Linked DNA regions of Homo sapiens: all the other regions are linked to region 2. The links come from fine-mapping of genetic effects on gene expression. A gene starts in region 2. Each other region holds a variant in brackets. All regions are shown on one strand. Distances are between the middles of the regions. Region 1 overlaps RFFL (ring finger and FYVE like domain containing E3 ubiquitin protein ligase). Region 2 holds the start of RFFL (ring finger and FYVE like domain containing E3 ubiquitin protein ligase). Region 3 overlaps LOC105371742 (a long non-coding RNA gene). Region 4 overlaps RAD51D (RAD51 paralog D).

Region 1 (8,106 bases), 21 kb after region 2:
AATCTTGGCTCACCGCAACCTCCGCCTCCCAGGTTCAAGCGATACTCCTGCCTCAGCCTCCCGAGTAGCTGGGACTATGGGCATATACACCACCACGCCCAGCTAATTTTTTTATTTGTAGTACAGATGGGGTTTTGCCATGTTGGCCAGGCTGGTCTCAAACTCCTGACCTCAGGTGATCCGCCGGCTTCAGCCTCCCAAAGTGCTGCGATTACAGGCGTGAGCCACTGTGCCTCGCCAATTGTGCAATTTTAAGCATGAATTTCTGTCCTTTTTTTTTAAAAAGCGCTCTATTGCTGTTATCATTAGTTAATAATTCAACAAATATGTGTTGATTACCTGGCATTAAGGCTGAGAATAAAGCTGTGAAATAGACCTACTCTTGTTTCCTGTTTCACTTTCCACACCCTAAATATGGAAGAAAAATACTTTAAAAAGAATTATATAGGCCGGGCATGGTGGCTCATGCCTGTAATCCTAGAACTTTGGGAGGCTGAGGCGGGCAAATCACTTGAGGTCAGGAGTTCAAGACCAGCCTGGCCAACATAGTAAAACCCCATCTCTACTAAAAATACAAAAAATTAGCCAGGCATGGTGGCACGTGCCTGTAATCCCAGCTACTCAGGAGGCTGAAGCATGAGAATTGCTTGAACCTGGGAGGTGGAGGTTGCAGTGATCTGAGATCATGCTACTGCACTCTAGCCTGGACGACAGAGTGAGACTCTGTCTCAAAAAAAGAAAAAAAAAAGAATTATACAAACTGTTAGCCAGTTGATTAGATACAGTACTGCTAGAATGCTCTTTCCCCCAGAATGTAATCATTATGAGATTCAAGGACCTTGCCTGTTGTTGTTCCTCTTACGTTCTCCAGAGGTACAGGAGATTCATGCTAAATAGTCTGATAAATCAATTATGGTTATAAGGAAGTGTATAAGATTCTATGAGGCCAGGCATGGTGGCTCACACCTGTAATTCCAATCCTTTGGGAAGTTGAGGTGGGAGGATCACTTGAGCCTGGGAGATCGAGGCTGCAGTGAGCTGTGATCGCACCACTGTACTCCAGCCTGGGTGACAGAGTGAGACCCTGTCTCAAAAAAAAAAAAATGTTATGAGAGCACAGACAGGATCAGGAAAGGTTTCCCTGAGGAAATAAATGATATGTAAGGGAGGTGAGGTGGCAACAGTGCTCCAGGCTGAGAGAATAGCTGAATAGCTTGAGGGAGGGAGATTCCTAAAGCCAAAATAACCTTGGTGTTTGAAGAACTGAAAGAATAGGATAGAGTAAGGAGTAAGGCCCTGAGCACTAAGGATTTGCTTTCATTATTATTTACTAGTTACCCAGTGACAACACTTACTTTATTTTTTTTGAGATGGAGTCTCGCTCTGTCTCCCAGGCTGGACTGCAGTGGTGCAGTGTCGAGTCACTGCAACCTCCACCTCCCAGATAAGCGATTCTCCTGCCTCAGCCTCCGTGCAGCTGGGATTACAGGCACCTGTCACCATGCCTGGCTAATTTTTGTATTTTTAGTAGAGACAAGGTTTCACTGGGATTACAGGCGTGAGCCTGCCGCGCCTGGCTGACAACACTTATTAAAAGGAGGGTAGACCAGGTGCGCTGGCTCATTGCCTGTAATCCCAGCACTTTGGGAGGCCCAGGTAGGATTGCTTGAGGCTAGGAGTTCAAAGACCAGTCTGGGTAACATAGACCCTGTCTCTACAAAAAAAATAAAAATAAAAAATTAGCTGGGCAAGGTGGTGGGTATTTGCAGTTCTAGCTACTCAGGATGCTGAGGTGGGACGATCGCTCAAGGCTACAGTTTGCTATGATGGTGCCAATGCACTCCAGGCTGGGTGACAGAGACTTGTCTCAATAAATGAATCAATGAAATAGAGCATTAGTTGCAGTTGAGACAATTAAGTCAGAAAAATCTCAACTGGAGCAAAAGTAAGAAGAGAAACTGAAATACACCTTAAATATCAGTTAAAGGCTTTATCTTTAGAAGGTTGGGGGTCTGTATCACTGGTACCCTGAACTTGTAGAAACTAGAAATGCAGATGACTTATGGGATGTATAAATTAAAGTTCTGTAGTCCCAGGAATGGTTTTTCTATGTATTATACTTTTTACAAGGTGCTTAAGGTACTTTTTATTGAATCCTACAAAAATCAGACCATTTTAATTCTGATTTTTGTAGGATTATTGTGTTAAATAAGACAACAGATGCAAACATAACAACTAACTTGGCACATTTTAGGTGTTTTGTAATGTTTTTACTTTGTAATCTTCTGAGAAAGGACTTCAGGAACCCCAAGTTCTGAATAACTCCCCCAATTTTCCCCGTGTCTGCCATCTGAAATAATAGCACAGAAGATTATGTCATGTCTAAAGTTTTGATCCTTTACATTAAAGTATAACTTGGGGACTGGAGGAGAGAAGAGGCTCTAGTCCTTGTGTCTTTGATGTTACTGACATCTCTGTGTGAAAGGAGGCTCTGGAAGCTGGTTTGGAGAGAGGCAAACATTTAATCCTCATGAGCCCATGCCTTATTATAATGACGGCTATTTACTGAATGTCTAACACTGCCCTCTGCTCTTGATGTAAGATTGAAAAGTCCAGTGAAGTTATGATCCCCCTTTATACTGAGCACCACCTCTATGTCCAGCCTGTGAGGTGTAGGGAATGTATTCCTGTTACTCTGAAGCTCCTAGTGGCAGCTTACTCAAGCTCATTCATTTATTCAGTGTTAGAGCCAGGATTTAAGGTCAGGTCTGACTGATTTTAAAGCCAAAGTAAAACATACTTGGGAACAGCTTTTTTTCCCCCCACCTTTCTCTCCAACTGTTCTGTCTTCTTAAACTTTAGACCTAAAATAAAATTCTTACCTAGGAAATATGCATTTATCTGTTACCCATATCCAAAGGACTGCCTTGGAGGATAGAAAATGTCTATTAGTATTAAAAGCTTTGGAAATGTTTTCCTCCCCTGAGTTCTGGCCTGTGAAATATTCCTTGTTTATGTCCAGCCCATGCACCACTTCAGCAGGGCTCTTTATCCTAATTCAGGCCTTGGATTCTAAAGTTCTACCATATACATGTCTTCTCTATGACTTAGGTATTCTGAATTCTTTTTTCTTTTCTTTTTTTTTTTTTTTTTTTTTGAGATGGAGTCTCATTCTGTCGCCAGGCTGGAGTGCAGTGATGTGATCTCAGCTCACTGCAACCTCTGCCTCCTGGGTTCAAGCAATTATCCTGCCTTAGCCTCCTGAGTAGCTGGGACTACAGGTGCATGCCACTACGCCCAGCTAATTTTTTGTATTTTTAGCAGAGATGGGGTTTCACCATGTTGGCTGGGCTGGTCTCGAACTCCTGGGCGCTCAGGTGATCCGCCTGCCTTGGCCTCCCAAAGTGCTGGGATTACAGGTGTGAGCCACTGCGCCCGGCCACCGAATTATTTATTCTAAAATAAATATCTCAGAAATAGTATCACAGAGAACATGCTTCATTGTCCCACCCCCAGCATATGAGACCAGTTAGTAGTATGGTTTACTCAGCAGGCTGCTTACTTACAAATGCAACAGTTGTCCTATTTTATGCTCATTGTGTTGTCACCAGCATTTTAAATCTTTACAAGTCAGGGTGGGTACCTCAGGCAGGTTTGCTGGAAAATTCCAGTAAACAGTTTCAAAGGAGTTCAAGTTGCTTGCCAGACTAACTTACTTTTAAAAGTAAGCAGCCTTCCAAGTTAAGAGATGATTTTAAATTTCAGGTGAGTTCTCAGGACATTGTGATTTTTTAATTATGCTGTTGGTATAAATCAGCTGTGTCAGGGCCTGTCCCACCAAGAGCGTTGGGTGGTAAGAAACCCAAGCTTTGGGTGACCAGAGAGAGGAGAGAGACCTTGGGCTTTCCAGCCAGTAATGCCTATGAAACATGTAGGTCATTGGCATTTTATTTTATTTATTTTTTTGAGATGGAGTCTCGCTCTGTGGCCCAGGCTGGAGTGCAGTGGTGTGATCTTGGCTCACTGCAACCTCTGCCTCCCGGGTTCAAGCGATACTTCTCCCTTAGCCTCCTGAGTAGCTGGGACTACAGGCATGTGCCACCACACCACTAATTTTTGTGTTTTTAGTAGAGACGGGGTTTCACCATGTTGTCTAGGCTGGTCTTGAACTCCTGACCTCAACTGATCCGCCTGCCTTGGCCTCCCAGAGTGCTGGGATTGTAGGAGTGAGCCACCATGCCCAGCCATCATTTTAGAATTATAATTTTTAGCTGGATGCGGTAAAAAAAATCCTTTCTCAGCCTTCAGGTCTCATCTCAAGTATCACCGACATGAGGAGTCCTCCCCCATTTACACACACCAGCTCGGTGTGAAGAACCGAAAGGTCACACTACCTTTCGGTTCTTCACACACCAGCCCACTATGGCTTGAAGTTAACGAGTGAGAAAAGTAGCACGGCATGAATTGGAGAAGTGGTCAGGGTCTTTAACCATGTAAGAAGTGATTATTTTTATTCTAAAATGCAATAGGAGTCCATTAAAGAACTTTTTTTTGAAGAGTTTTTAAACATTTTTATGTACAAAGAGTTAACATGATTTCTTTCATTGGGTGGATGCCTTGGATAATCCATCCAAGGAAGATCACTTCTAGGAACAAGCAACATTAAAGAGCTTTAAGTGTGTGTGTTGAGGGGAGGAGGGCAGTGGGTGATGCCTTGTGGAGAAATAGGTGGATAGAGGCAAGAATTAAAGCTAGGAAACCCGTTAGGAGGCTGTTCTTTTACCCAAGAAGCCATTCTAGACTCTGGAAATTCGGTAGAGCACAAAGTCCCTGCCCTCATGGGGTTTCTATTCTAGTTAGGGAAAGCAGTTAATAAATAAGCAAATAATATCAGCTAATACCAAATGTTATGGTGAAATTAGAAAATGACATTAAAAGGCTGG[T/G]CGTGGTAGCTCACACCTGTAATCCCAGAGCTTTGGGAGCCTGACGCAGGAGGATCCTTAGAGCCCAGGAGTTCGAGATTACAGTGAGCTATGATCAAGCCACTGCACTCCAGCTTGGAGAGAGACCCTATCTCTCTCTCCCTCACACACACACACACACACACACACACACCAAAAAAAAAAAAAAAAAAAAAAAGACATTAAAGCTGATGTTTGGATGACAAGAAGGAGCTAAGCATAGGAAGTTCTAGGGAGACCAATCCAGGCAGAAGGAACAAACAACAAATCTAAAGGGCCTAAGGAGGGAAATGTGATTAATATATGAAAGATGATGTTTTAACCCACCAGCAGGAGCAGGGGAGATGAAGGTAGGAATTTATGCATCTTTGATTTAAGAAAAGTATTTTTTATTTTTTTTTTACTTTTTTTTTTTTTGAGAGAGAGTCTCGCTCTGTCGCCCAGGTTGGAGTGCAGTGGCATGATCTCAGCTCACTGCAACCTCTGCCTTCCAGGTTCAAGTGATTCTCCTACCTCAGCCTCCCAAGTGGCTGGGACTATAGGTGCCTGCCACCATGCCTGGCTAATTTTTTATATTTTTAGTAGAGACGGGGTTTCACCATGTTGGCCAGGCTGGTCTTGAACTCCCGACCTCAAGTGATCTGCCCGCCTTGGCCTCCCAAAGTGCTGGGATTACAGGTGTGAGCCACCACACCCGGCCAAGAAAGGTATTTAAAGCAACCTGAGGTGTGGTTGGAGAGGGAGGCCTAAGACAGCCTGGACACTCACAACATTTAAGAACAGAGGGAGGGGTAAGAAGCAGCAAAAAGGCTTTGAGGTAGGAGGAAAGCCACGGGGGCAGAGTGCTAGAAGCTAAGAGATGTTTAGAGGGGGAGAGTCGCTTGTGTCCAGCATTGCTGAGAGATTAAGATGAGGATAGAGAAGTGTCAATTAGATCTGGCCACTTGGAATTCCTTGGTGACCTTGAAGAGATTAGGAATGGTGGTTGGCTCAAGCTAGATTGGAGAAGGTTTAAGAGTGAATTAGAGGTTAAGAAAGTGGAGTCGGCCAGATGCGGTGGCTCATGCCTGTAATCCCAGCACTTTGGGAGGCCGAGGTGGGCAGATCACCTGTGGTTGGGTGTTTGAGACCAGTCTGACCGACATGGAGAAGCCGTCTCTACTAAAAATACAAAATTAGCTGGGCATGGAGTTGTATGCCTGTAATCCCAGATACTCGGGAGGCTGAGGCAGGAGAATTGCTTGAACCCGGGAGGCAGAGGTTGCAGTGAACTGAGATCGTGCCATTGCACTCCAGCCTGGGCAACAAGAGTGAAATTCCGTTTCAAAAAAAAAAAGTGGAGTCAAATATTTGGAGAAATTTGATTTAGAGGAGATCACAGAAAAAGAGCTTTACTGGGGAGGGGGAGAATGTGGGGTCAAAATGGGGTTTTATTTTTTATTTTTTTGTTATTTTTTACAAATTACAAATATTTGACTAGGTGCTTTAAAAAATCTGTCATTGGCTGGGCGTTGTGGCTCATGCCTATAAGCCCAGCACTTTGGGAGGCCGAGGTGGGCGGATCATGACGTTAGGAGATCAAGACCATCCTGCCCAACATGGTGAAACGCCGTCTCTACTAAAAATACAAAAATTAGCTGGGTGTGATGGCACGTGCCTGTAATCCCAGCTACTCGGGAGGCTGAGGCGTGAGAATCGCTTGAACCCAGCAGGCGGAGGTTGCAGTGAGCCGAGGTTGCGCCACTGCACTCCAGCCTGGCGACAGAGCGAGACTGCGTCTCAAAAAAAAGAAAAGAAAAAAATCTGTCATATGGGCTGGGTGCAGGGGCCCATGTCTGTAATCCCAGCACTTTGGGAGGCTGAGGCGGGTGGATTGCTTGAGCCCAGGAGTTCGAGATCAGCCTGGGCAACTTGATGAAACCCCATCTAGACAAAAAAATACAAAAAATTAGGTGTGGTGGTGCGCGCCTGTAGTCCCAGCTACTCGGCATGCTGTGGCAGGAGGATCACGTAAGCCTGGGAGGTCCAGGTTACAGTGAGCCATGGTCGCAACACTGCACTCCAGCCTGAGCAACAGAGTGAGACACCCTATCTCAAAACAAAACACAACACTCATATAAACTTTTAATTCAAATGTAACTAGAGAAGTATATAAATTATAAGTGTACAGTTCGATGAATTTTTACAAAGTCAACATATCTACATAATCAGCATTCAGAGTAAGAAACAATGTTACCAGAAGCCCCTTGGGCTGCCTTCCATCTGTAATCCTACCTCACAGGATGACCACTATCCTGATTTTGAACACCATAGTTTGCCTGTTTTTGAATTTTATGTAAAACGAATCATTTCCCATGTATTCATTTATGCCTCCTGCTTTTGCTCAACATAAGATTCATCTGTACTATTGCATGTATCAGTTGTTTGTTTTTTCTCATTGTTCTGTGAACATATCATAATTCTACCGTTGATGGACACTTCAGTTGTTTCCAGCTTGAGGCTATTACAGTAGGGCTTCCATGGATATTCCTGTATACTGTTTGGGTGAATGTATTTCTGTTGGGTATATGCCTGGAAGCAGAATTGCAAAGCCATGGAAAGAGATGTGGGTGCGCGTGTATATGCACGCGCGCGCACACACACACAAAATTTCCAAATTGGAGTAATTTACACTTCCACCAGCAATATTAGAGTTCCAGTTGCTCTTTTTTCCTTTTTTTTTTTTTTTTTTTTGAGACAGTTTTGCTCTGTCATCCAGGCAGGAATGCAATGGTGCGATCTGGGTTCACTGCAACCTCTGCCTCCCAGGTTCAAGCGATTCTTCTGCCTCAGCCTCCTGAGTAGCTGGGATTATAGGCATGTGCCACCACGCCTGGCTAATTTTTTGTATTTTTAGTAGAGACGGGGTTTCACCATGTTGTCCAGGCTGGTCTCGAACTTCTGACCTCAGGTGATCCGTCCGACTTAGCCTCCCAAAGTGCTGGGATTACAGGTGTGAGCCACCATGCCCGTCTGCTCCAGTTGCTCTTTATCCTTATCAACATTTGCTAGTATCTCTTTTTCATTTTAGCTATTCCAGTGGTGGTAACACTTTGTGGTCATAATTTGTACTTCCATTATGACAAAGAAGAGTTTTTAACACCTG
Region 2 (8,106 bases):
CACTGAACACCAAGATTAGAATTTGGCAATCATTAATTATCAACAAGGTGAGACAGGCACTGATTCCTGGAAATGTGCATTTATCCATTCACCGACTTCTCAGTTAGAAAAAGGATGTGGACACAAGTAAGATTAATTTTGTTAAAAACAAGAAATGTGCAGTATCATTTAGGATGCTGGGGGTAGGGAAGTAGATAAAAGGGAGATGTTGAGAGGAAAGAGTGTGAAGAGAGAGTAAAGCAGTTTGTAAGTGATACAAACTTTAAAATTTTAACTGAATTTTAAACTACCAAGTCATATTTGAATATATGCTTGTTGTAAAAAAATTCATGATTTTTGGGGGGTAATTTGGATAAAGCTAAACATAGCTATTTGATCTTTATTCCCATTACAGTGCTCTCCCTGCTGTGTGCATCCTCCCAGATCTTCTGTATGTATTTGGTAATTTTCTGTGGATTTGGAAGACTACAGAATCCTGAGAAATGGATATTTTAATTTCTCTTTTGAAACCTGCTTATTGTTTATAATGTCAAGATCTATTGCAGAAAAGAAAGTAAATCTGGGATGTCAATGACATCACATATGTCTGTTCAAATGAAACAATGGGCACATACACATATGCACACTCATTAAATATCTGTTGAGACCACCCTATTAAAAAAAGCATAAATAGTTTTGGGTGTTAAGTTACTTGAGTTTTAAAATAACGTATTTTCTGTTTTTGTTGTTTTTTGTTTTGAGATGGAGTCTCCTTCTGTCGCCTGGGCTGGATTGCAGTGGCGCAATCTCGGCTCTGCAACCTCTGTCTCCTGGGTTCAAGTGATTCTCCTGCCCCAGCCTCTAGAGTAGCTGGGGTTAGAGGTGTATGCCACCATGCCTGGCTAATTTTAAAATAATGTATTGAAAGAACTTAGTCAGAAAGCCACAGTTATTATTTCTCCCATAGCCTCATATTCTCATAATTTTCATGTAACCTCATAAATCCTCAAGTGCCTGAAACCACTAGTTCAAACGAGTACCTTTTTAAGCTCTAAAATGTAATCCTCAACCTTTCCACTTTAAAAGGAAGAACTAGGATGGAGTGTGGCTATAATTTGGGGCAGTTGGTTAAAACTGTATCAGAGTCCCAAAGAGGGGAATGATAAGCTGCAGCAGCTCTGTTCACTTGCTCAATGGTGTTTCTCTTAGTCAACTTAGGAGTTCCATGCCTTTGGCCTTCAGGCTGCTCTTTATATAGTTCGTATCTGTCTCCTGGGCATAGTACTGTCTGGATTTTCTCTTTCTTTTTTTTTTTTTTTTTTTGAGACGAAGTTTTGCTCTGTTGTTGCCCAGGCTGGAGTGCAATGGCACAATCTTGGCTGACTGCAACCTCTGCCTCCCGGGTTCAAGCGATTCTCCTGCCTCAGCCTCCCGAGTAGCTGGGATTACAGGCATGTGCCACCACACCTGGCTAATTTTGTATTTTTAGTAGAGATGGGGGTTTCTCCATGTTGGTTAGGCTAGTCTTGAACTCCCGACCTCAGGTGATCCGCCCACCTCGGCCTTCCAAAGTGCTGCAATTATAGGCGTGAACCGCTGTGCCCGGCCCTCTTATTTAAAGTTCGCAAATACAGAACAGGTCAGGAGCTTTTCTAATCATTTTTTTTTTTTCTGAAGGAGGTTCCATATTTGTCTGTACCTTGAGAGTTGTTTCATACTAGAATTTGTAACTTATCATCAACTACAGAAATTTTTTTTAAAGTGTGGTTGAAGAGATAATGGTTGTCAGCTGCTATAAAGATGTGTTTATCATTCAGAAAGGACTAATTAACATGTACTATAGGGAAACTTCTTTAAACAAAGCCATTTTCTGAAAGGAAAACACTGAAGGGGAGGAAATAAAACAGGGAACATTTTATAATACCTTATCAAAGCTCAGCGTGGCTATCCTACTGGAATAATGTAATTAAGGAGAATTAAGTGAGTTGGATAAATAACTTTTTAAAACTAGCCCCTTGAATAGAAAATTAAGTAGTATAGTTTTTAAACTCAAATTCTGTCTGCACGTACATTTTAATTAACCTAACATTATTGAATGACAAGCTGAGTTGGCAGCTACATCCAGAGTTCATGCCATGTGAGACCTACCTTAAAGGATGAACGAAGCTGGGTGCAGAGGCCTCAAATGCCCTGCTAAGAAATAGCTGATGGCCTTGGGGAACTGTCATACATTTTAAGCAGGAAACAGAAGGATCTAATAGGAACTTTAGTTTCTCTCTTGTCAAATTAAAGCACACAAAAAGCAAGGACTTGATCTTTTTTTTTTTTTTTTGTATAACACCAATGTCAATTCTAGCCTGTCAGGGCAAATTCAGTAATTAATAGCTGTTGATGAGCCAGTCATTCTAGATTGATTTTTTAAATAAGCAGGCTAATAAATGAGAATTGACATAAATTTAGGGATGTCTCTTTTCAGAGCAAGTGTTAAGGTGATTTTCATAGTCTTCTGTATTCCCTATGCATCCAGTAGGTGTGATGGTAAATGATTTGGCTTTAGCATAGAGAATGTGGCAGCTGATTAAAAAAAAAAAATTCCAGTGCATCTATCTTAATGAGAGAACTTGAGTTGTCTGAAGAAATAGAGAGGTCAGAGGAGGCCTAGTGGGAAAAAAGAACAATGAGCCTGGTTAGAACTGACAAAAATTCACCCTAATGATTTGACTGGCTAATGATGACTGGGCAAGTTCCCTGAGTCCACTGACCCAGATGTTCTAATTTGTAAATGCAAAGTGACTTATTTATCAGCCTCCTGGGGAAATCTTCAGAGCTGTGAACCTGCTATGTTCAGTAATCTTGCTGGCCCCAGCCCCAGCCTGTTCTCAGATGAAATTTTAGAAACTGGCCACTGGAACTTTTTGGGTAAGGGCTCTGGAGGTGGCCAAGTTACCAGTAGTGGGGGAATGAGGTTTACCTGCCCCCAGTAATCAGCACTTGATTTAAAACAATCAGTGAGCTGCCTCTTCTTTCCTAGGTTGCAGTTGACTGCGGTTGGTTCAGGCTGAGTTGTTTGGGAAGTACAAATTTTGCCCAGCGTGAGTCAGCACTGCCCTGGGTAAACTCCCTGCTGTGTTGCAATCTTGCTTACCAAAGATACATCCCCAGGCGGCACCATTCACTTCACATGAAAGCCGCTGCTCTTGGTTCCTGAGATGATCTCATCTGAACATGGCTCCAGCGACCTCAGCCACAGGAACTAGAGACAGCTTGCTTTCTGTCGTGGCAATGTTTTGAAACTGGCAAAATCAGGTAACCTCAAACTGTTTTCTTAAGTTTCATTAGCTAGATGAAGCTGCATTAGAAACTGGGAAAATCCTGTCTTCAGAAGTGAGTCAGGTTTTTTTTTTTTTTTTTTTTTTTTTTTTTTTTGAGACGGAGTTTCACTCTTGTTGCCCAAGCTGGAGTGCAATGGTGTGATCTCGGCTCACTGCAACCTTCACCTCCCGGGTTCAAGTGATTCTCCTGCCTCAGCCTCCCAAGTAGCTGGGATTATAGATGTGCGCCACCATGCCCGGCTAATTTTGTATTTTTAGTAGAGACAGGGTTTTGCTGTGTTGGTCAGTCTGGTTTCGAACTCCCAAGCTCAGGTGATCCACCCTCCTCAGCCTCCCAAAGTGCTGGAATTATAGGCATGAGCCACGGCCCCCGGCCAGAAGTTTTCTTTCATTTGAGTTCTGGATGTGGAGTTAGGTCCAATTAAATCACTGATTATATAAATCTTAGAAAAGTAAAACGTTAGGTTTACAGCTTTATCCGTCATTTGCTCTTGTATTTTGTTTTTTTGTGTGTATCTTGTGAGAAACACTTTAGTCAAACTAAGCCATTGTTAAAGGAAAAGAAGTGAAGGCATTTGGTTGCCTTCCTAATAACTAAATATTGAGTTGTGGAGAACACTGTCTTATCAGTGAGTTTGTTCCCATATTCCTTTCTGAATTAATAGGAAGAACCTCCCTCATCTCTAATTCTACTAGGCTACTACTCTATCTCCCTCCTGCTTTTCATCGCCAAACTTTTGAGTCCTTCACCTAATCAGACTATGATATCTCTAGGTAGTCGTCACCCTCCAAATTACGTTTCTGCTCCTTATAATTCCAACAAATTGCCCACGTTCTCTTTCACCTCAGACCTTAGCATATGTAAGCGTTCTTTTACACACCTTCCCCAAGCTTAATCTGGCCAACTGGTTTCAGCCTAGAAGTCACCTCTTCCATGAAGCCTCTTCTTACTTACCAGGGTTGAGTACTCAGGAGAACCTGGTATTTACTCCAATCATAGTATGTATTGAGAATCAGGGTCTGCTTTGCTAGAATTGTATCCATGGTACGTTGCACATAGTAGGTTCTCAGTAAGGGTAGAATGAGCAAGAGCCTGTACTGTACTTTCTCAACTCTGATCCTCTCATCAACTCTTTTTTTTTTCTTCTGAGAGGAATCTTGCTCTGTCACCCAGGCTGCAGTGCAGTGGTGTGATCTTAGCTCACTGCAACCTCTGCCTTCCTGGTTCAAGCGATTCTCCTGCCTTAGCCTCCTGAGTTGCTGGGACTACAGGTACGTGCCACCACGCCCAGCTAATTTTTGTATTTTTAGTAGAGACAGTGTTTCACCATGTTGGCGAGGATGGTCTCGATCTCTTGACCTCATGGTCCACCTGCCTTGGCCTCCCAAAGTGCTGGGTTTACAGGTGTGAGCCACCGCGCCCGGCCTTGTTCATTCTTTTTATGCTCACATCTTTAAATGTGCTAAACCCTGTTGATTTTGTTGGAGTACTGTTTGATGTGTGGCTTTTCTTCATTCCCACTGTCATTGCCTTAATTTACCAGAGGTCAAAACTGGACGTTTAAAGTCAGGCTGGGCACGGTGGCTCACGCCTGTAATCCCAGCACTTTGGGAGGCCGAGGTGGGCAGATCACCTGAGGTCAGGAGTTTGAGACCAGCCTGGCTAACATGGTGAAACCCCATCTCTACTAAAAACAAAAAATTAGCTGGGCGTGGTGGCACGTGCCTATAATCCCAGTTACTCAGGATGCTGAAGCAGGAGAATCACTTGAACCCAGGAGGTGGAGGTTGCAGTGAGCGAGGATCACACCACTGCACTCCAGCCTGAGCAACAGTGAGACTCCATATCAAAAAAAAAAAAGAGTTTGAGACCATCCTGGCCAACATGGTGAAACCCTGTCTGTATTTAAAAAAAAAAAAAAAGGCACGCCACGCATGGTGGCCAGTGCCTGTGGTACCAGCTACCCAGCAGGCTGAGAAAAGAGAATTGCTTGCACCCAGGAGGTGGAGGTTTCAATGAGCTGAGATTGTGCCACTGAACTCCAGCCTAGGCACAGAAGAAGACTCCATCCCAAAAATCAATCAGTCAGCCTAAGGGCTTAAAATTTTGTGTGTGAATACTTTTAGGCACCATCAGAGAGAAGGCCTGTACTCTTCAAAGATTACGGATACCACCATTTTCTGACATCTTACACACTGAAGACTTAGCATTTTACCTGCATTGCCTCTAGGAATTTGAGTTTGTAACTCCTAGTTCAGACCCTTATCAAATGGCCACTCCTCCATAAGTCTTTCCTTGCTCCTATCTTCTCCATATTGTTGCCCAAGTTATCTTTTTAAAGTCCACATCTAATCTTTTCATTTAAGGTGCCATTTGTTCCCTGTTTTCCACTTAGCTTGACTTCTAAAAGCTTTCACAGTTGGATTCTTTCCTACATGTTGCTGTTAACCATCTCATCTCCCTCTCCCCTGGCCATTTCTCTCCTCTCCAGCTTCACTGAACTTCTCATGTTAACATTCCATGGATATACCATGTCTTTTAGGACTCTGCCTTTTCCCAATGGACTCTCCCTTCTCTAACTGGCAAGATACTCATCCCTCAGGACACTTAGTTCATATATGCATCTTCTCTGACTTCTCTGTCTTTTCTGACAGACAGCACTGTCTGTCTCTTCCACTAGACTGTTGAGTTCTTTGACTGAACTTGGTGTCCCTGGACTAGAGCTTGGCACCATCAGAGAGAGTGGCTGACGTGGATCTCCGGGCTCAAACCGTTATTCTTTGCAATATTAGAAGCTTTTTTGTTAGATGGCATGGTTTTTCATTCCTATTTGATGAACATGAGCCCATGGCTGCTTATTTTGTATGTGTTACCTGCCACCATCAAGTAATCATTCAAAGTTAATTTGAAGATTTAAAGGGTTTGCTGAGATCTAGTCCCGCAATATCACGACATTTTTATGGTGTTTTACAAAATTATTTCCCTCATATGGTTTTATTTGCGTTGGGTAGGCTTTATTTATTATCCCTATTTTACCAGTGATTATAAAGCTAGTCTGATACCAAAGCATATATACATTTAGGTAAGACTCAGAGAGAAAACATGGTTCTTACACTGCATTAAGCAGCTGGTTTGTCTCTTAATATAGTAGTTAAATATACTCTATCAGGTTCCACAGAAATGGTGCCTTTGCTCGATAGGCAAGTGCTAACGGTCTTGCCTTTTACAAGGCCACTTTATCATCAAGGTAGGAGGAGGAGGTACTCTGAACCTGCCTGACCTATGGGAAGGCCCTGGTTGTGGTTAGAGACCTTGATTGAAATTAATGGTGTGCGTACTCCAACCTCTCAGGTTTTTCTTTTATACTTCAAATATCTGGAAGTTGTGAAAACCTGCTGCCCTGGTGGAGTATCAAACCAGGCTGGTGAGTGAAAGCGGTCATCCCAAAATGGAGTAAGCTGAGTGTTAAGGGCAGAAAACCTTTTACAGTTATAGTAAGTAATTAACTTTTTAGATCACTTCACAACTTTTGGAGTGCTAAAATGCCATATTTGGGACTATGAGAAATTCCATTATAAAAAGCTGAACCATTAGAGCTAGGAAATAATCTCTGTTAGATATTGGCATATGGTGTTCAATTTTGGGTCTCTCATACTTGAGAGGATAATTAAAATGATTAAAAGGTTGAAAAACAGGTCTTATCATTATAAGTTTTAAAAAGGGGGGAAAGATTTTAGCCTAGAGAAAGAAAAGCTAAGAGATAACTTCATTATCATCTTCAAATACAAGAATAGTTTTGCCAGGGGGATTTTTATTAATTATTCTTCATGAACTTCAAAGATTTAAGAGGAAATGGTCTTAAATTGAAGGAGGAGCAATTTTGATGAATACGAGAAAGAATTTTTTGATCATCAAAGTGGGGAAATGTTTGAATGACTGCCCAAGAGAGTGTTGAATTTCTGACTGTTTCAGTTGTCTATTGTGTGACAAATTACCCGAAGACTTTTGGTGGCATAACATGACAACCATTTTATTGCCTATGATTTTGTGGGTTAGTAATTCAGGAAAGGAGGACATATTTTTTTTTGTCCCATATGATGCTGATTGAGCTGGAGGATCCAAGAAGGCTGCACATGTCTGTACCTTTGGAGCTAGCTGTTGGCTGGGATATCTTGGTTCTCTGTGAGTTCTCTTTCTTGGTCTCTCATCACTTATAAACCTATATCGAGTGGCCGAGCGCAGTGGCTCATGCCTGTAATCTCAGCACTTTGGGAGGCCGAGGTGAGTGGATCACCTGAGGTCGGGAGTTCCAGACCAGCCTGACCAACATGGTGAAACCCCGTCTCTACTAAAAATACAAAAATTAGCTGGGTATGGTGGTGGGCACCTGTAATCCCACCTACTTGGGAGGCCGAGGCAGGAGAATTGCTTGAACATGGGAGGCGGAGGTTGCAGTGAGCCAAGATTGTGCCATTGCACTCCAACCTGGGTGACAGAGCGAGACCGTCTCAAAAAAAAAAAAAAAAAAAAATTCTAGCTCGAGCTTCTTTTACATGGTGGCTGGGCCATAATGGAAGCTGCAGGATCTCATAAGACCTAGGCCTGGCAGTCATACATCATCACTTTTGCCCCATTCTTTTTGTCAGAGTAAGTCACAATTATAGCCCAGATACAAGAGGAGGGGACATTGACTTCACCTCTAAAGGATAGAGGGTAAAAATCACATTGCAAAAGGGCATGCAATGTGATTGGGATTATTACTACCAACTTTATTTTTTGAAACAGAGTCTCGCT
Region 3 (8,106 bases), 200 kb after region 2:
AAAATTTGTTACAATAGCTACAAAACTACCTGTAAGTTCCAGCTTAAAATAAGAAATAAAGGGCCCCTTAAGCATCCAACACAATAAATGAAAAGAGCCCACACCAATTCACACATCATTGTGAGTCAAAAGAGCCACAGGAGAAGAGAATATTCTAAAGATTTCCAAGAAGGAAGCCAGGTCACTTTCAGAGGAACAAGAATCAGACCTGCACCAGACTGTCATCAACAACATCAGACACTTTCACATTCTGAAAGAAATGATTTTCAACCTAAGCTTTCTACATCCCACCAACCCATTATTCAAATTGCAAGAACCCATAGACTGTCTCCCATAAATCCTTTTTAAGGAAGCAACTTGAGGATGTCTTTTAATAAGTAAGGGAGTAAACAAAATAGGGGAAGACTGGGAATGCAAAAAGCTATACATAGAAATCAGAAGAGCTGTGCACAAGCATAAAGAACAACCAGTCCAGATTGAAGCAAGAGAACTGAGTGCTCCAGCAGGCAGGGGTGGTGGTGGTCCCTAAATAAAAGGGGAACTCGGTAGAATGGGCTTTATAAAGACTTTTAAAAAATTGGAAATGTGACAAAGACAATTAGGACTAAAGAATAAAGAAAGACAACTCAAAACGTATAAACACACACATACACATTTGTATCTGAAATGAAACTGTGATTATAGTACACTACTTGGCTCTGTAGTGAACAGTCTTTACCTAGGCACAATAATAGAAATACTTTTCAGTGATTTTCAACTCTTGGAATCAATCTGAAAGAACTATTGTGGTTACAGAGTAGATGTAGATATTATCAGTTTTTACAGTGTAAAAGTAGAAGTGTAGATGACAGACAGCATTAGGAGGTAGAAGTGGGAGAGGTGAGGTGAAGGGAAGGATGGGGGTAGAAATATTCTTTTTGTACAATGTACAAATTCTCTTTAAAAAGTGCATCTGTAGAGGATGGAAGATCACAAAAGTAACCAATAGAAGAACTAAAAATAGAGATATGGCAGGAGGGATGGAGGTGGTGTGAGTGAGATAAATCCTTGTCTATTCTAGCAGTAAGTCAATAGATTGTGTCTAAAATTGATGAATCAAGAAATATCAGTAGAAGCATATTATTTAGAAAAATGGAGGTAAATATAAGAAAAGACATTTAAAAAAGTTAGATGTGGCTGTCTAGGGGGGACAGAACAGGGAGTAAGAAGTATTTTAACAGGAAACTGTTTTTAACCTTGTGCATATATGACTTTGAATAAAAACAGACTTTGTTTTTTTTTAAAGAAAAAGGGATGCAGGCCAGATCTAGGAGGAGATTATAAAACCATCATCTTTTCCTAAGGACAATCAAGGCATCAAAGAGCCCCTAGTCAGCCCCCCACCTGGAACAGGACTTCCAGTAATGCTTTGAAATCTGGTGGCTGTGAACTCATTCAGTCTTTACAGGAGCAGAGATTTGGATACTTTGAAATGTCACTAATTTTCTTGCCAAGGCTTCTTTGTGATAAACTTCAGCTCCCCCTTTATCCCCCTCAAAAATACAATTTTCAATAAATAGCAAACTCATAAATAACATGGGGCACCGTGGCTCCTAATGAAACAGTGACAAATGCTATATCTTCATGGGATCAGGAGAAATAACAAAGGGGGGCACATGGAGGGAGCTGGAGCCCTCAGAGCATGTGAGATTTTATTAAAAATCCTTTAAGTTTCATGTGGCCCATTACAGTCATTCTCTTGCAAAATAATTAAACATTGTTCAGAGACATGGCTGCTTTATTAGGAGAATGCTTTATTAGTGAAGGGTAGACTTCAAGTCTGCCCAAGAAAGGTGGAATGGGCTGGCCTGCAGTCTGGAGGCCCGGGTTCTCTCTCTAGCTCCCTTGAAAGGCAACTGTATGGCCTGGGAGAGTCCTTGGTACTCCCTGGGCCTCAGTCTCTTCCTCTGTAAAATGGGAGGGCCAAATTGGATTTTTGTTCCTAATCTGTTTGTATGTGGTGGACAGGTTTTCTCCCTCTGGAAAATGTGCAGCCACACACATGTAATTTTGTACATAATTTCAGGAGGCTCGCAGATCCTCGACATCCCATCTGCAGTCCTCTAAGGTCATACTAGCTTGGATACTCAAGGATTCTGTTCTTTTCCTTCTCCATGGATCATGGCCTACAGCATCTGGCTATGGTTTTAATCAGATCATTGTTTTAACAGGGTGAAGCAGAGCTTTCCAGGAAAGTTCTTGCTCTCCATAGGTACCATCTTTCACCAAGCACTGGCTGGTGGTGTGAGCATCTAGTGCTTGGTGCAAACCTGGCTTGCAAACATCTGACCTAGGAATGTCCTGCACGATCAGCCAGCTAGCGTGTGCTGGACTCAGCTCCGCAGCAGCTGATCCCTGTGGAAGGAGACCAGCTCCTTGAGACTTCAAATCCCTGTTCCTGAGGGGGGCAGTCCCAGGCCTTTTCCTGCAGTTGTGATGTATAGGGGAGCTCTGTGTGGCTCACTTTCAGGGTTCCTGGGCCAGCATCTTCAAGTTCCCCACTTATTCTATTCCCCAAATGCTACCTATGACACTGCCTCTGGAATCCCGCTAAGCAAATGATTCTCTGCTTCTTAAGCAAATCTTTCTCCCCCTAGACTGGGGAGGCCCATGAACCTCATCCTCCGTCCCTGCACAGTGTGTAGGTTCTTCTGTCTCCCTGTGTGTGTCTGGCTGCTCGAAAGCCCAGCACATCTATCCTAGCCTCCTAGGCTGCTGATACCACTTGGAAGCATAATAACCACCATTTCTTGAGCACCTTTTACATGCCTGATGCTGAACACAGTGTCTTCATCCCCATGGTTACAGAGGGAAAAACGGACACTCAGTGAGGTTAAGGAAGGTGGCCAGGGATACAAAGCTGGAAATGGCTGTGGGTGGCAAACTTATAAGATAGTCCCCCAATAACCCCAGAATTCCTGCCCCTTGGTATCTATGCCCTTGAGTAATTCCCTGTCTCTGAGTGTGGGCTGGACCTAGTGACTTGATTCTAACCAACAGTGTCGCAAAGGTGGTAGGATGTCCCTTTTCTGATTAGGTTACAGAAGATTGTGACATCAGTGTTGCTAGCAGGCTCTTTATTGCCCTCTTGGCTTGCATGCTTTGATGAAGCAAGCTGCCATGAGGGGGAGGCCCATGCGGTCAGGAACGGAGGCCCTCATTGCGACGGCCTGCAAGAAACGGAATCCTGCCAACAGCTATGTGAATGAGCTTGGAAGTAGATTCTTCCCTACACAAACCATTAAATAAGATTGCAGACCTTGGGCCAACCCCTTGATTGCAGCCTTGTGAGAAACCATGGCTTGCAGAGGACTCAGCTAAGTTGCACCCAAATTCTTGACCCTCAGACACTGTGAGATAATAGATGTATTGTTTTAAGCTGCTAAATTTTGGGAATAATGATTACACAGCAATGGACAATGAATACAATGGCCAAGCTGGGATTTGAAGCCAGGCCTGCCTGGCGTGGAAACTCTGGATGGGTTCCTTTGCACCAGGCTGCCTCTCTCCACCTTCCCAGTTCAGCCCCAGGGTGGAGGAGCCGCAGGGATCTGGTGGGCCCTGTAGCACCTCAG[C/T]CTCACATACACAGTGCAGGGTCTGGTGGACAATGACATAGCCATGACTGGAGGCTGGGGGATGGTTAGTGAAAGAGGAGAGCACTCGATCAGGAGCCTCTGGGCTTTGCTCCCAATGAGCCCTGGGACCTCTGATAGGCTTTGCATGCTTTGGGGCTCAGTGTCTCTGTGTAAAATGGGGTTGTTGGAGGAGGACATTGCTAAGGCCATTCCCACCTGGCTCCTCTGAGTGAGAGCTGGATTCTCTGTCTTCCTGAGGTCTTTCCAGGCAGCCCCACCTCCAGAGTGGAGTGATCGCAGAGGGAGGATGGAGGGTGGGAATAGAGGCTGTGGGAAGCTGGTCTGGTGGCCTTTGTGACTTGAGTCCCTAGTCGAGGGGAGTCCTGCCTTAGCCCCTGAAATTCCTATCTAACTACCATTTTTCTGGGGGGTCTATCAGCGAGTTTTGGGTCTGGGGAAGAAAAAGAAGCCCTCTGGACTGGAGGCCTTATTCCCAGAGCAAAGGTGAAGGTGGTGGGACAGTGTGTATCCTAGCTCCGGTGGTGAGACTGGACTTCAATAGGGGACACTTAGTATGTGCAGGGCGTGATAAATGCGTGCTCATCTTCCCTCTGAATTATTTCAGTTCTCTGGCCCCGGGATGATTTATGCAGCTGAAAGGCTAAAACAAAAGTTACTCAACTTATTTCTTCCTCTTCTTTCCTTGCCCTTTTCTGTATCTCAACAGGGGCAGAGATGGGAGGAATTTTTTGGTTCTTTCTTTTTTTTTGTTTTGTTTTTTTTAACCATCTCTAGTAAATTATACCTTTGGATACTCACACAGGCCCCTCTGCTGTCTCTGAGCTGCATGGAGACCCTGAGGTCCAGAGAGACCTCCTGTAATGCTCTAAGGAGACAGGCAGGTAGAGGGCTTCAGCGTGCAGGCTTGGAGGCAGACCTCTTGGTTTGAATCCTGGCTCCACCACTTACTAGCTGTGTGACTTTGCTAAGTTACTTAACCTCTCTCAGCCTCAGTTTTCTCATTCTATAAAATGAAGACTTTACCTTATTTCATAGGATTGTTGTAAGTACTGAATGTGACAAAGTATGTAAGGAGCTCAGCATGGTGCTGGGACATAGTTAGCAGTGAGTCAATGCTAGTGATGATGTTTATTCGCTGTCCTGAGATGCGACCAACTTTAAGTCTGTTGACCTTTAATCCTGTGTTTTTCCCCAGTAGGCTGTGTTACCAGCTGCGCCTCTCTGTGGAGTTCTGTTGCTCCTCTAAAGTTGGCACTTTGTTTAATTCTAATTTAACCTTGTTTTTCTGCTGCTTCTTGAACGTGTCCTTCAGTCCTTTCTTGGAGGCAGCAGGGGTGAGAGGAAGATGAGAAGGAAGAAGAGGAGGGGAAGGCAGAGGAGAGAGAAAAGAGAGCATGATAGTGGGCCCCAGAGGAAGAGGACCTAGCTTCTCACCTTGGAAATCTACCTAAAATTCACCAATAACTTTCACATTCATCATCCTTTTCCCCCCCGCATCTGTAGAATAGATGGGGTTATTAACATGTGTAAGGTTTTATTGTTCCCATTTGACAGAAGGGAAAAGCTGAGATTCAGGGGAATAAAGTGACTTGCCCATGGCAACGCTGCTGGAAAGAAGTAGAGTGGATCCACCTTGGTATTTGGGTCAATGTCTGGAACCTTCGCCATTGTTCCAGGGCTTCAGACTCACCCTTGAGACTCAGTGACCCTTGGTGAATCTCCTCTCTGGCCCTCTGTTCTCTTGTTTAGAAATGAGGTGCTGGGCCCAGATCATCTTGGAAGGCCCTTCCAGACTGGTTCTTGCTCCCAAGTGGAGCCCAGGTCTGCCTGGTCCTCAGATGGGAGGAGCAAATGTCACGGACTCTCTCTGACTTGGTTGCTGATGGGAATTTTCTGCCTCAAGTTCTTTGTGTTTTTGGAGTCTTGGGCCCTAGATGCCAAGCATCGTACTTAATTATTCAGAAACCCATGTATCCTCTGTAAGCTAGAAATACACTCCGACAGGCAAGAAATGCCACAAACTGTTTATTGCTCTTTGCTTCAAATCTGGAGTGGGAGGCAGGGGTTGGGCAGCACCTCTGGCTGCAGGAGGCAAATCCCTGTTCACATTTGGGCGTAGATGCTCCCATCTTATCTGGCTGTGTTAGGGAACCCAGGTTCCCACTCTCCCATCCACCTGCTGAGTGGCTTTTGGAGAGCTATTGTCCCTCTTGGAGCTTCAGCTTCACCTTCTGAGAAATGGGTTCACATACACCCTGCCCTCTAAGAATGGCGAGTTGTGGAGCTCACTCAGGACCTGAGAGAATTTCTCAATCATGGAGTTGAATAATGTTGCTGATGGGGTTCACCTGGTCCATTTCCTGACCTGGGTGCCGGGCAGGGAGGGAGAGTATAGAGAAGCAGTCCCTAACCTCTTTGGCACCAGAGACTGGTTTTGAGGAAGATAATTTTTCCATGGACTGGGGTGGGGGTGGGGATGGTTTTAGGATGATTCGAGCCCATTACATTTATTGTGCACTTTATTTCTATTATTATTACATTGTAATAGATAATGAAATAATTACACAACTCACCATAGTGTAGAATCAGTGGGAGTCCTGCACTTGTTTTCCTGCAACTAGATGGTCCCCTCTGGGGGTGATGGGAGACAGTGACAGATCATCAGGCATTAGATTCTCATAAGGAGACTGCAACCTAGATCCCTCACATGCACAGTTCACAACAGGGTCCACACTCCTATGAGAATCTAATGCCACCGCTCATCTGACAAGAGGCGGAGCTCAGGCAGTAATTCGAGCCATGTGGAGCGGCTGTTGATAAAAACTCTTTGCTCTCTTGCCAGCAGCTCACCTCCTGGTGTGCGACCTGGTTCCTAACAGGCAACAGACTGGTACTGGTCTGTGGCCTGGGGCTTGGGGACCCCTGGTGTAGGTAACTACAGGAGGGTGAGTGGAGATTTCCTTTGTCTCAAGAGTTTTGGGGGAAGGAGGATGTGCCTCTTCTTCTAGGGATTCATCCCAACCCTGCAAAGTCTCTTCTTTCGTGGGCTTAGGGGAGCATCAGCTCTGTACAGGGTCTTTGGATCAAGATGGTAGGAAGTAGCTGTGCTCATCAGGCCACTAAGGGGGAAGAGAGAAACAAGTGGGTCAGTCGCTGGGCTGAGGACTTTACTTAGCTGAGTTTATCTGCTTTTGTTCAGCAACCTTGTGTAGGTGCTGGTCCAAAGGATTTCTCGAGTCAGGATTATGACACCACTTATTAATCAATTCATTAATTCAATCACTTAGACATGCATTTGACCAGCATGTAGTGAGCCTGATTCTGAGTCACGCTCCGGGCTCAGCTCTGGGTAGTGTGTGTGTATGCATGCATATGCCTGCATGTGCACATGATAAGACAAGATTAAGACTCAGTCTCCAGGGATCTCACAGTTAACTAGGGGAGGCAACCACACACTGGGGGCTGGGGTGGCAGCATACAGTGGACAGAGCAAGCTACTGAGGAGGGCATGGTCCATTCTTCATTAGAAGTGGTAGAGAGGGGATATCGGGGAAGGCTTCTTGGAGGAGGGGACCTTCATGTCATATAGGATGCCTTGAGTGTTATTATACTATATGGATTTTCTTAGAATTATTACAGTGTAATTATTCCTAATGAAGAAGGTGTAAGTAGAGGGGACCATGACCAAGTGGCCACGTCTTCTAAGTTAACTGCAGAATTGGACTGTGGGGTCAAAACTCTTCCCTCCATCCCATGTGCAGTGCTCTTCATGTGGGACATGCTCCTCATCCCTAAGTGCTCATTGCAAACAGACCCCTTGAGTCTTCACACTGTGGGCAAGTGGCTTGGCTGGGACAAGCACCCTGGCCTCCCAACCCCCAGCACAGTGCTCTTGCCACTCCTGCCATTGTCCCTGTCCTCCACCAGTTCTTCTAGATAAGACTGCCCACCACTCAGGTCCTCTGCGTTGTGAGGGTTCTCCACTCCCTGGGAGCTCACAGGGGCAGGCTCAGACGCTGAAGGGATTGGGCCAGCACCTAACACTCAGCACCCTTGTCCCTGCAAGGTGGGGCCATAGAGCAGGGTGCTCCTTGGGAAGAAGCACTCCCCTCAGTACAAAGTGTACCTGGGGAGTTTTATTTCAAATGCAGCAAGAGTCACTGAGTACTTACTGTGCATGAGACACTCCTTGGGCCCAGGGTGAGGATTCAGAGAGAATCTAGGCCTGGTGGTCTCTGCCTTTGTGTGGTCAGGGATGCACCTGCAGGCTTCAGTAAGGTGTCTTTCCTGGTGGAGGGGGCACTTTCCCAGTCTATTCTTTGCTGTGTGGGCTAAAGTGGAATGTGTTTCCTATTTGGAGCTGGAGGATGTACCACATGGGGCAAGACCAAGACAGGTCTCATCTAGGAGACCACAGCATATTCCAGGCAGGTGACAACAGCAGTCTGGTGAGGTCCGAGCAGAGAGGCAG
Region 4 (8,100 bases), 53 kb before region 2:
CCGCGAATGCCCACGTGACGTGCAGTCCCCCTGGGGCTGTTCCGGCCTGCGGGGAACATGGGCGTGCTCAGGGTCGGACTGTGCCCTGGCCTTACCGAGGAGATGATCCAGCTTCTCAGGAGCCACAGGATCAAGACAGGTGACCGGGTGTGCGCGTGCCAGGGAGCCGCGCGGGCCTCGCACAACCTGGGCAGGCCCCGAGGGCTGGCGCACTGCCCTGGCATACCTGCAGGGCGCTTCCCCTCCATTCCTAGAGGGCCGCGCTTCTGGAGAGGCTCAGGAAGGGTGGGCGTGGGGAGCCAAGCTCTAAAACAGGGTAGAGATTCCTACTGTGTGCAGGGCACCGCGCCGGCTCCTGCAGCTTTGTTATTTCACACTGGCCTCCTGAGACGGCCTGCCGGGGGGTAGAATTGACACCCCATTTGACAGATGAGGAAAAACCAAGTGTGGGAGGCCCCAGTCCTCTCTGCCAATCCGCTATACGTGTTTTGTTTTCAGTGGTGGACCTGGTTTCTGCAGACCTGGAAGAGGTAGCTCAGAAATGTGGCTTGTCTTACAAGGTGAGCTCCTGATCTCCACATTCCAAACCTGAGTGTCTTTTTAAAAAGTCCATCCCAAGCCAGCTGGGCGCGGTGGCTCATGCCTGTAATCCCAGCACTTTGGGAGGCCGAGGCGGGTGGGTCACTTGGAGTCAGAAGTCAGGAGTTCGAGACCATCCAGGCCAACATGGTGAAACCCTGTCCCTACTAAAAATACAAAAATTAGCTGGGTGTGGTGGCCCACGCCTACAATCCCAGCTACTCGGGAGGCTGAGGAAGGAGAATCATTTGAGCCCGGGAGGCAGAGGTTGCAGTGAGCCGAGATCGTGCTACTGCACTCCAATCTGGGCGACAGAGTGAGACCCTGTCTGAAACAACAACAATAACAAAAGTCCATCCCAAGCCAAAGGGAGCAGAGGGTTCTCAGATATTGAGAAGTAGGGTGAATGACACCCTGGGATGCCAGCTTCTACGGGCAATTTGTTGCTGAGCAGTCTGGGGCCCTTTGGCAGGCCCTGGTTGCCCTGAGGCGGGTGCTGCTGGCTCAGTTCTCGGCTTTCCCCGTGAATGGCGCTGATCTCTACGAGGAACTGAAGACCTCCACTGCCATCCTGTCCACTGGCATTGGCAGGTTTGTGTGTGTACTTGGGGAAGAAGGAGAGAGGCAGGAGGATGGGGCCTCCTCTCAGCTCTGCTTTTGATGCTTGAGTCTAGACGGGAGGGGTTTTTTTTTTAACCAATAATGGATGGGAAGGAAAGGGGTCAGGACATCTGAATTCTTATCCTATAACAGGGTTATGGGGTATCTCAGCCTTGGCACTATTGATATTTAGGGACAGGTAATTATTTGTTGGGGGGTGGAGGCTGTCCTGTGCAGTGTAGGATGTTTAGCAGCATCTCTGGCCTCTGCCCACTAGATGCCAGTAGCACCAGCCCTGCTCCAGTTGTAACCATCAAAAATGTCTCCTGACATGGCTAAATGTCCCCTGGGAGGCACAATTGCCTCTGGTTGAGAAGCATTGTCCTATAACACAAGCTGTCAGTATCTCATTATTTTCACCATCTTCTCTGGCCCTACTTCTTATTTTACTTAAGGATATGGCAAGAGAGAACATTTACTGAGTGCCTACTATGTGCAGGCATTACCTGTATGTTCTAGGTAATCTCTTCAGTGACTCTACCAGTTAGAGATAATTAACCCTACTTGAGTTTAGCCTAAGAGGAGCAAGTGGCAAAGGTGAGGCTCAAGCGCGGGAGTATGTGGCCCAGAACTTATTCACCACATCTGCAGCAGTAGAGAACAGGAGAGTTCAGAGAAAGAAGGAGTTGCGGTCCAGATGCAGTGCTCATACCTGTAATCCCAGCACTTTGGGAGGCTGAGGCGGCAGATCACTGGAGGCCGGGAGTTTGAGACCTGCCTGGCCTGCTTGCCCGCCCAAAATGATGAAACCCCGTCTCTACTAAACATACAAAAATTAGTCGGGCGTGGTGGCGGGCGCCTGTAGTCCCAGCTACTTGGGAGGCTGCAGCAGGAGAATTGCTTGAATGTGGGAGGTGGAGGTTGCAGTAGGCCAAGATCGCACCACTGCACTCCAGCCTTGGTGGCAGAGCGAGACTCTCTCAAAAAAAAGGAGCAGTTATGTCCCGCCACGTTGTTTGGTGGGTTGGGGAAGAGTTGCAAAGACGACAGACGTTTGCTGGCCAAGTGAGTCTTGACCTTTTTCCTGGTCTGTTTGTTCAGAAATTGATGAATAACTGCCACCATAAAGGTCTTTGGATTGGTGTGGCCCTTTCTGTTTCCTTAACACATTCTCTTGGCAGGGTTCATGCAGTGTGGTGCTTGCTTTCCCTGGTTGGGGGTCTGAGTCTGTGATCCATCAAGCACTGGCTAAGGGCCTGCTGGGTGCTTGGTATGTGCAGATGATACATACACGAATGAGGCAAGGCCCCTGCCCTTAAGGCCTCTAGTTGGGTGTAGGGGAAAATCAAGTGAATACAAGAGAGCTGTAAGCACCGAGGGAGGCAACGGTAAGGAGGGAGTGGTGAACAGGAAGCCGATTGGCCTTGGGCTTAGGGAGTTTATAAATCCAACAGACATGGAGGGCGCACTCAAGTGGGAACCTGGGAGGACTGCAGCTGCCTCAGGTCCCCGCAGGGAGATCGTGGAGTGGGGTCAGGAATGCTCTGAAGAAGGCAGGACTTGGGCATGGAGGAACAGATGGACTTTCGCTGAATGCTTTCGATGAACGAGGCACTGCGGTCAGCACTTCACGGTACATTATTTCATTTATTCGTCACAACCACCAATGAGCATGTTACTGTTTAAATCATCATTCTAGGCCGGGCGCAGTGGCTCACGCCTGTGATCACAGCACTTTGGGAGGCTGAGGTGGGCGGATCATGAGGTCAGGAAATCGAGACTGTCCTGGCTAACACGGTAAAACCCCGTCTCTACTAAAAGTACAAAATATTAGCTGGGCGTGGTGGCGGGCGCCTGTAGTCCCAGCTACTCGGAAGGCTGAGGCAGGAGAATAGCATGAACCCGGGAAGCGGAGCTTGCAGTGAGCGGAGATCGCACCACTGCACTCCAGCCTGGGCAACAGGGCAAGACTCCATCTCAAAAAAATAAAATAAAATAAAATAAAATAAAAATAAATCATCATTCTATAGGTGAAGAAATTGGGACTCAGGTTAAATGACTTGTTCAAGATTGTGCAGTTAGCAAACGGCAGACCAGTTATTTGAGTTCATGCTTGTCACACTCCTAAGTCTAAGAACGCGGCTCTTAACTCATCTGCCCGGCTGTCTCCCTGGAGGCGGGAGGCCATTGTGAAAGCAGGGTTATAGACAGTGGGGTAGAGGTGTGCAGGGTGGAAGGGTGGCAGAGGCCAAGCAGGGCCCTGGCAGTGCTGGCCTGGGGTATGTGAGTCCAGTCTAGAACAGTGGGAGACATGTTGAAGAGGAACTGTGACAAGACCTACTACCAGGAGGAATGTATTGTGAAGAATCAAAGCTGACTCACCAGGTTTCTAGCCTTTCTTTCTTTCTTTCTTTTTTTTTTTTGTCGGAGTTTGGAATGTATTGTGAAGAATCAAAGCTGACTCACCAGGTTTCTAGCCTTTCTTTCTTTCTTTCTTTCTTTCTTTCTTTCTTTCTTTCTTTCTTTCTTTCTTTCCTTTCTTCCTTTTCTTTCTTCCTT[C/TTC]CTTCCTTCCTTCCTTCCTTCCTTCCTTCCTTCCTTTCCTTCTTTCCTTCTTTCTTTCTTTTTTTTGACGGAGTTTCACTCTGTTGCCAGGCTGGAGTGCAGTGGCGTGATCTCGGCTCACTGCAACCTCCGCCTCCAGGGTTCAAGTGATTCTCCTGACTCAGCCTCCCGAGTAGCTGGGACTACAGGTGCGTGCCATCAACGCCCAGCTAATTTTTTGTATTTTTAGTAGAGATGGACTTTCGCCATGTTGGCCAGGATGGTCTCGATCTTCTGACCTCGTGATCCGCCCGCCTTGGCCTTCCAAAGTGCTGGGATTACAGGCGTGAGCTACCATGCCCAGTCTCTAGCCTTTCTTACCGTGTGCTGTGGACAGTTAATGGTGTAACTTTAAAACTTGGGAGGAGGGGAGTTCTGTAGTCAGAAGTTTGAGAAATGCCTGACTAATCCAAATTAAACAGGTTTCTCTGTTGTAGGCCGCCTCAGAACCTTTAGTGCTGAGGTGCAATGATTCCTTACAGGGTGTTATAGCATGTAACGTACTTTGGGAAAAGCTATGTTGATGAGGGAGATTGATTATTCCTTATAGGCCAGAGCTAGGTCTGTTCATCCCACAGTCCCCTCATTTTAGAATAAGACTGTCAGGAAATATGAGGCATTGAAGTGGTGTGTGAATGGATGACTGAAAGAATGGCTAAAAGGCAGTTCAGAGGGAAAGGCAGAGGATAAGTCCCAGAAATCACCTGTATTCTAGGCAGTGGTAAAACCCAGGTGTACTTCTGCTTCATGGGGCAAGACAGGGGTCTCTCCCTGTTGACATGCGGAGTTAAAGGTGATGGGGACATATTGGTAGGAAGGTTCTCTGGGCAGTCGGAGAGGCACGGAATGGAAACTCAGGTGAGAAGTTGGCTGGAAGGTGGATTTGGGAATACCTTATACAGACTGATCTCCACAGCCAAGGATGTGGTTGATTCTTGACTAGAGTCAACACCAGTGCTTCAACCCCAGCTGCACGTTAGAATCATCTGGGAAACTTGAGATATTCATGCTCTGGTCCCAACTCTATATATTCTAATTTAATTAGTCTAGGTCAGTGGTTCCCAAACTTGTGTGCCCATTGGAGTCACCTGAGGACTCTTTTAAACATTACGAAGTCCAAGTCTCCCCCAGACCAATTAATCTCATTCACTGTGAGTGGGACACAGGCATCAGTATTTTTTAATTTTTTAATTTGTTTTTTAGAGACAGGGTCTTGCTCTGTTGCCCAGGCAGGAGTGCAGTGGTGCACAATCATAGTTCACTGCAGCCTTGAACTCCTGGACTCAGGCAGTCTCCCTGCCTCAGCCTCCCAAGTAGCTGGGACTACAGGTGCTCACCACCATGCCTGGCTAATTAAAAAAAATTTTTTTTTTTTGTAGAGACAGGGGTCTTGCTGTGTTGCCAAGGCTGGTCTCAAATTCCTGGGCTCAAGCAATCCTACCTCTGTCTCCCAAAGTGTTGAGATGACAGGTATGAGCCACCATGCCTGGCCAGGCATCAGTATTTTTTTGAAGCTCCCAGGTGAATCCAATGTGCAGACAACTTTGGGTACTGCTGACATAGGCATTTTTTAAAAAACTCCCCTGATTTTATTTTATTTAATTAATTAATTTTATTTTTTTGAGACGGAATCTTGCTCTGTCGCCCAGGCTGGGGTGCAGTGGCGCGATCTCGGCTCACTGCAAGCTCCACCTCCCGGGTTCATGCCATTCTCCTGCTTCAGCCTCCCAAGTAGCTGGGACTACAGGCGCCCGCCACCACGCCCAGCTAATTTTTTGTATTTTTAGTAGAGACGGAGTTTCACCGTGTTAGCCGGGATGGTCTCGATCTCCTGACCTCGTGATCCACCCGCCTCGGCCTCCCAAAGTGCTAGGATTACAGGCGAGAGCCACTGCGTCCAGCCAACTCCCCTGATTTTAATGTGCAGGCAGGATTGAGACTAACTACTCTAGTCTAATGGTTCTGAAACTTGAGCAGGCTTCAAAATCACTTGGAGGCCTTGTTGAAACTCAAGTTTCAAGTGTGGGCTGCATTCCCAGAGTTTCTGATTCAGTAGGTCTTGGGGAGCGGAGCTGTGAATTTGCATTTCTAGCTAGTCCTTAAAGGTTGCTGATGCACCTGGTCTGGGGACCACACTGGGGTTCCTCTGATCTCAATGGGAAGAATGGAATCAGGAGTGGTAGAGGCTGGATACTTATTAAACAGAGATGGGGTGAGCACAATTATCTCAAGAAGCCACAGGGCTAGAGTGGTAACCAGAGTGTTTTGACTGGCAGGAACCTGTGGGTATAATCATGGGGAGTCCCTGGAATTAAAATGGTTGGGGGCCAGGCACGGTGGCTCATGCCTATAATCCCAGCACTTTGGGAGGCCAAGGCGAGTGGGTCACCTGAGGTCAGGAGTTTGAGACCAGCCTGGCCAACATGGCGAAACCCCATCTCTACTAAAAATACAAAAATTAGCCAGGCGTGGTGGTGGGTGCCTATAATCCCAGCTACTCGGGAGGCTGAGGCAGGAGAATTGTTTGAACCCGAGAGGCGGAGGTTGCAGTGAGCCGAGAGCACACCACTGCACTCCAGCCTGGTGACAGAGCGAGACTCCGTCTCAAAAAGAAAAAAAAAATGGATGGGATGCTTACTAAAGTGCTGTTCGGCATATACAGAGAGGTCATGGGAGGTCATCAAGAACCATCTCAAGGACTGGAACCTAGGAAGGTGATTGTAGGGCTAGGAAAGGTACGCATGTGATCAGGCATTGGTACAGGCCGTGGCATAGAAGAAACTTCAGCCTAGAGATAGGGCAGGGCATGGAGGGTAGGTGGTGACCTGTTTCATGTGGTTGAGGGAGAGAACCTGGTTTAGGAATTGGCATGTCATGAGGTTTATCCCAAGTCTTTCACAGCCAGTGTTGATGATACAGAAGCGAAATAAAAGTGATAGCACCTTTCTGTTACTCATTTTTCTGGAATGATTATTGGGTGCCTCCTGTGTTTCAGGCACTGTGCTAGTGCTGGGGATGCGACAGGGATCGGACCCAGTCCTTGCCCCATGGTGCTCTCAGCTAGATGAGCAAGACAAACAAAAACAAGCAAATAACAAATAATTACAAACTCCTAGGACTAGTGAGGATACAAGACCAACACATACAAATCAACTGCATTTCTCTATACTCACAGTGAACATGTCAAAACTAAAATAAAAAACACTACCATTTATTGGCCGGCCGCAGTGGCTCATGCCTGTAATCCCAGCACTTTGGAAGGTCGAGGCAAGTGGATCACCTGAGGTCAGGAGTTCGAGACCAGCCTGGCCAATATGATGAAACCTGGTCTTTACTAGAAATACAAAAATTAGCTGGGCGTGGTGGTGGGTGGTTGTAATCCCAGCCACTTGGGAGGCTGAGACGGGAGAATCACTTGAATCTGGGAGATGCAGGTTACAGTGAGCGGATATTGTGCCACTGCACTTCAACCTGGGTGACAGAGTGAAACTGTCTCAAAAAAACAAAACAAACAAAATGGCTGGGCGTGGTGGTTCACGCCTGTAATCCCAGCACTTTGGGAGGCTGAGGTGGGCAGATCACAAGGTCAGGAGATCGAGACCATCCTGGCTAACACAGAGAAACCCCATCTCTACTGAAAATACAAAAATTAGCTGGGCGTGGCAGTGTGTGCCTGTAGTCCCAGCTGCTGGGGAGGCTGAGGCACGAGAATGACGTGAACCTGGGAGGCAGAGCTTGCAGTGAGCCAAGATTGCGCCACTGCACTCCAGCCTGGGCGACAGAGCGAGACTCCGTCTCAAAAAAACAAGCAAATAAACAAACAAACAAAAACACAATGCCATTTATAGTTGTTTCAGAGAAATGAAATACTTGGGTATAAGTCTAACAAAGCATGTGTAGAATCTGTATGCTGAAAATTTTTAAATTGTTGATGAAAGAGATCAAAGATGACTCGGATAAATGGATGACATGTACTTTGTTCATGGATTGGGAGACTGAACATAATGAAGATTTCAATTGTCCCCAAGTTGATCTGTAATTTAACGCAGTTCCTATTAAAATCCCAGCAAGTTTTTTTTTTCTATAGACATAGACAAGCTTATTCTAATAATTACGGGAAGACCAGTTTTACCTAGATTAGCTAAAACAATTTGGAAAAAGGATAGCTGGAGGAATCAGTCTACCCAGGGTTAAGACTTGCTATATAGCTACATAATTAAGCCTAGTGTGGTATTGACCAAGGGACAGATGGACACAGATCAGTGGAACAGAATAGATAACCCAGAAATAGACCTCCACAAGTATACACAACTAATTTTTTTT

Evidence for each region. PIP is the estimated chance that this variant, and not a neighbour inherited with it, causes the effect.
Region 1: its variant is fine-mapped to the expression of RFFL in whole blood (TOPMed, PIP above 0.99).
Region 3: its variant is fine-mapped to the expression of RFFL in whole blood (TOPMed, PIP above 0.99).
Region 4: its variant is fine-mapped to the expression of RFFL in whole blood (INTERVAL, PIP above 0.99).

Annotation. Positions count from the first base shown.
Region 1 is chr17:35,037,875-35,045,980 of GRCh38, reverse strand. All of the region lies in intron 1 of RFFL (ring finger and FYVE like domain containing E3 ubiquitin protein ligase), which reads left to right. The region is part of intron 5 of RAD51L3-RFFL (RAD51L3-RFFL readthrough); the gene reads left to right. Among named protein-coding and RNA genes, the nearest start is that of RFFL, 22 kb to the left of the region's middle. The variant T/G (reference allele first, on the strand shown) is at 4,944.
Region 2 is chr17:35,058,755-35,066,860 of GRCh38, reverse strand. It overlaps RFFL (ring finger and FYVE like domain containing E3 ubiquitin protein ligase), which reads left to right and starts at 3,154. Exons shown (of 7, transcript NM_001017368.2): 1 at 3,154-3,285. The region is part of intron 5 of RAD51L3-RFFL (RAD51L3-RFFL readthrough); the gene reads left to right. RefSeq lists enhancers at 2,973-3,072, 2,522-3,317, 2,404-3,603 and a silencer at 3,313-3,382.
Region 3 is chr17:34,860,954-34,869,059 of GRCh38, reverse strand. The region is part of intron 2 of LOC105371742 (a long non-coding RNA gene); the gene reads left to right. Among named protein-coding and RNA genes, the nearest start is that of CCT6B, 96 kb to the left of the region's middle. The variant C/T (reference allele first, on the strand shown) is at 3,615.
Region 4 is chr17:35,111,571-35,119,670 of GRCh38, reverse strand. It overlaps RAD51D (RAD51 paralog D), which reads left to right. Exons shown (of 10, transcript NM_002878.4): 1 at 1-139; 2 at 499-560; 3 at 1,052-1,170. The coding sequence starts at 58. The region is part of intron 1 of RAD51L3-RFFL (RAD51L3-RFFL readthrough); the gene reads left to right. Among named protein-coding and RNA genes, the nearest start is that of RAD51D, 4.2 kb to the left of the region's middle. The variant C/TTC (reference allele first, on the strand shown) is at 3,739.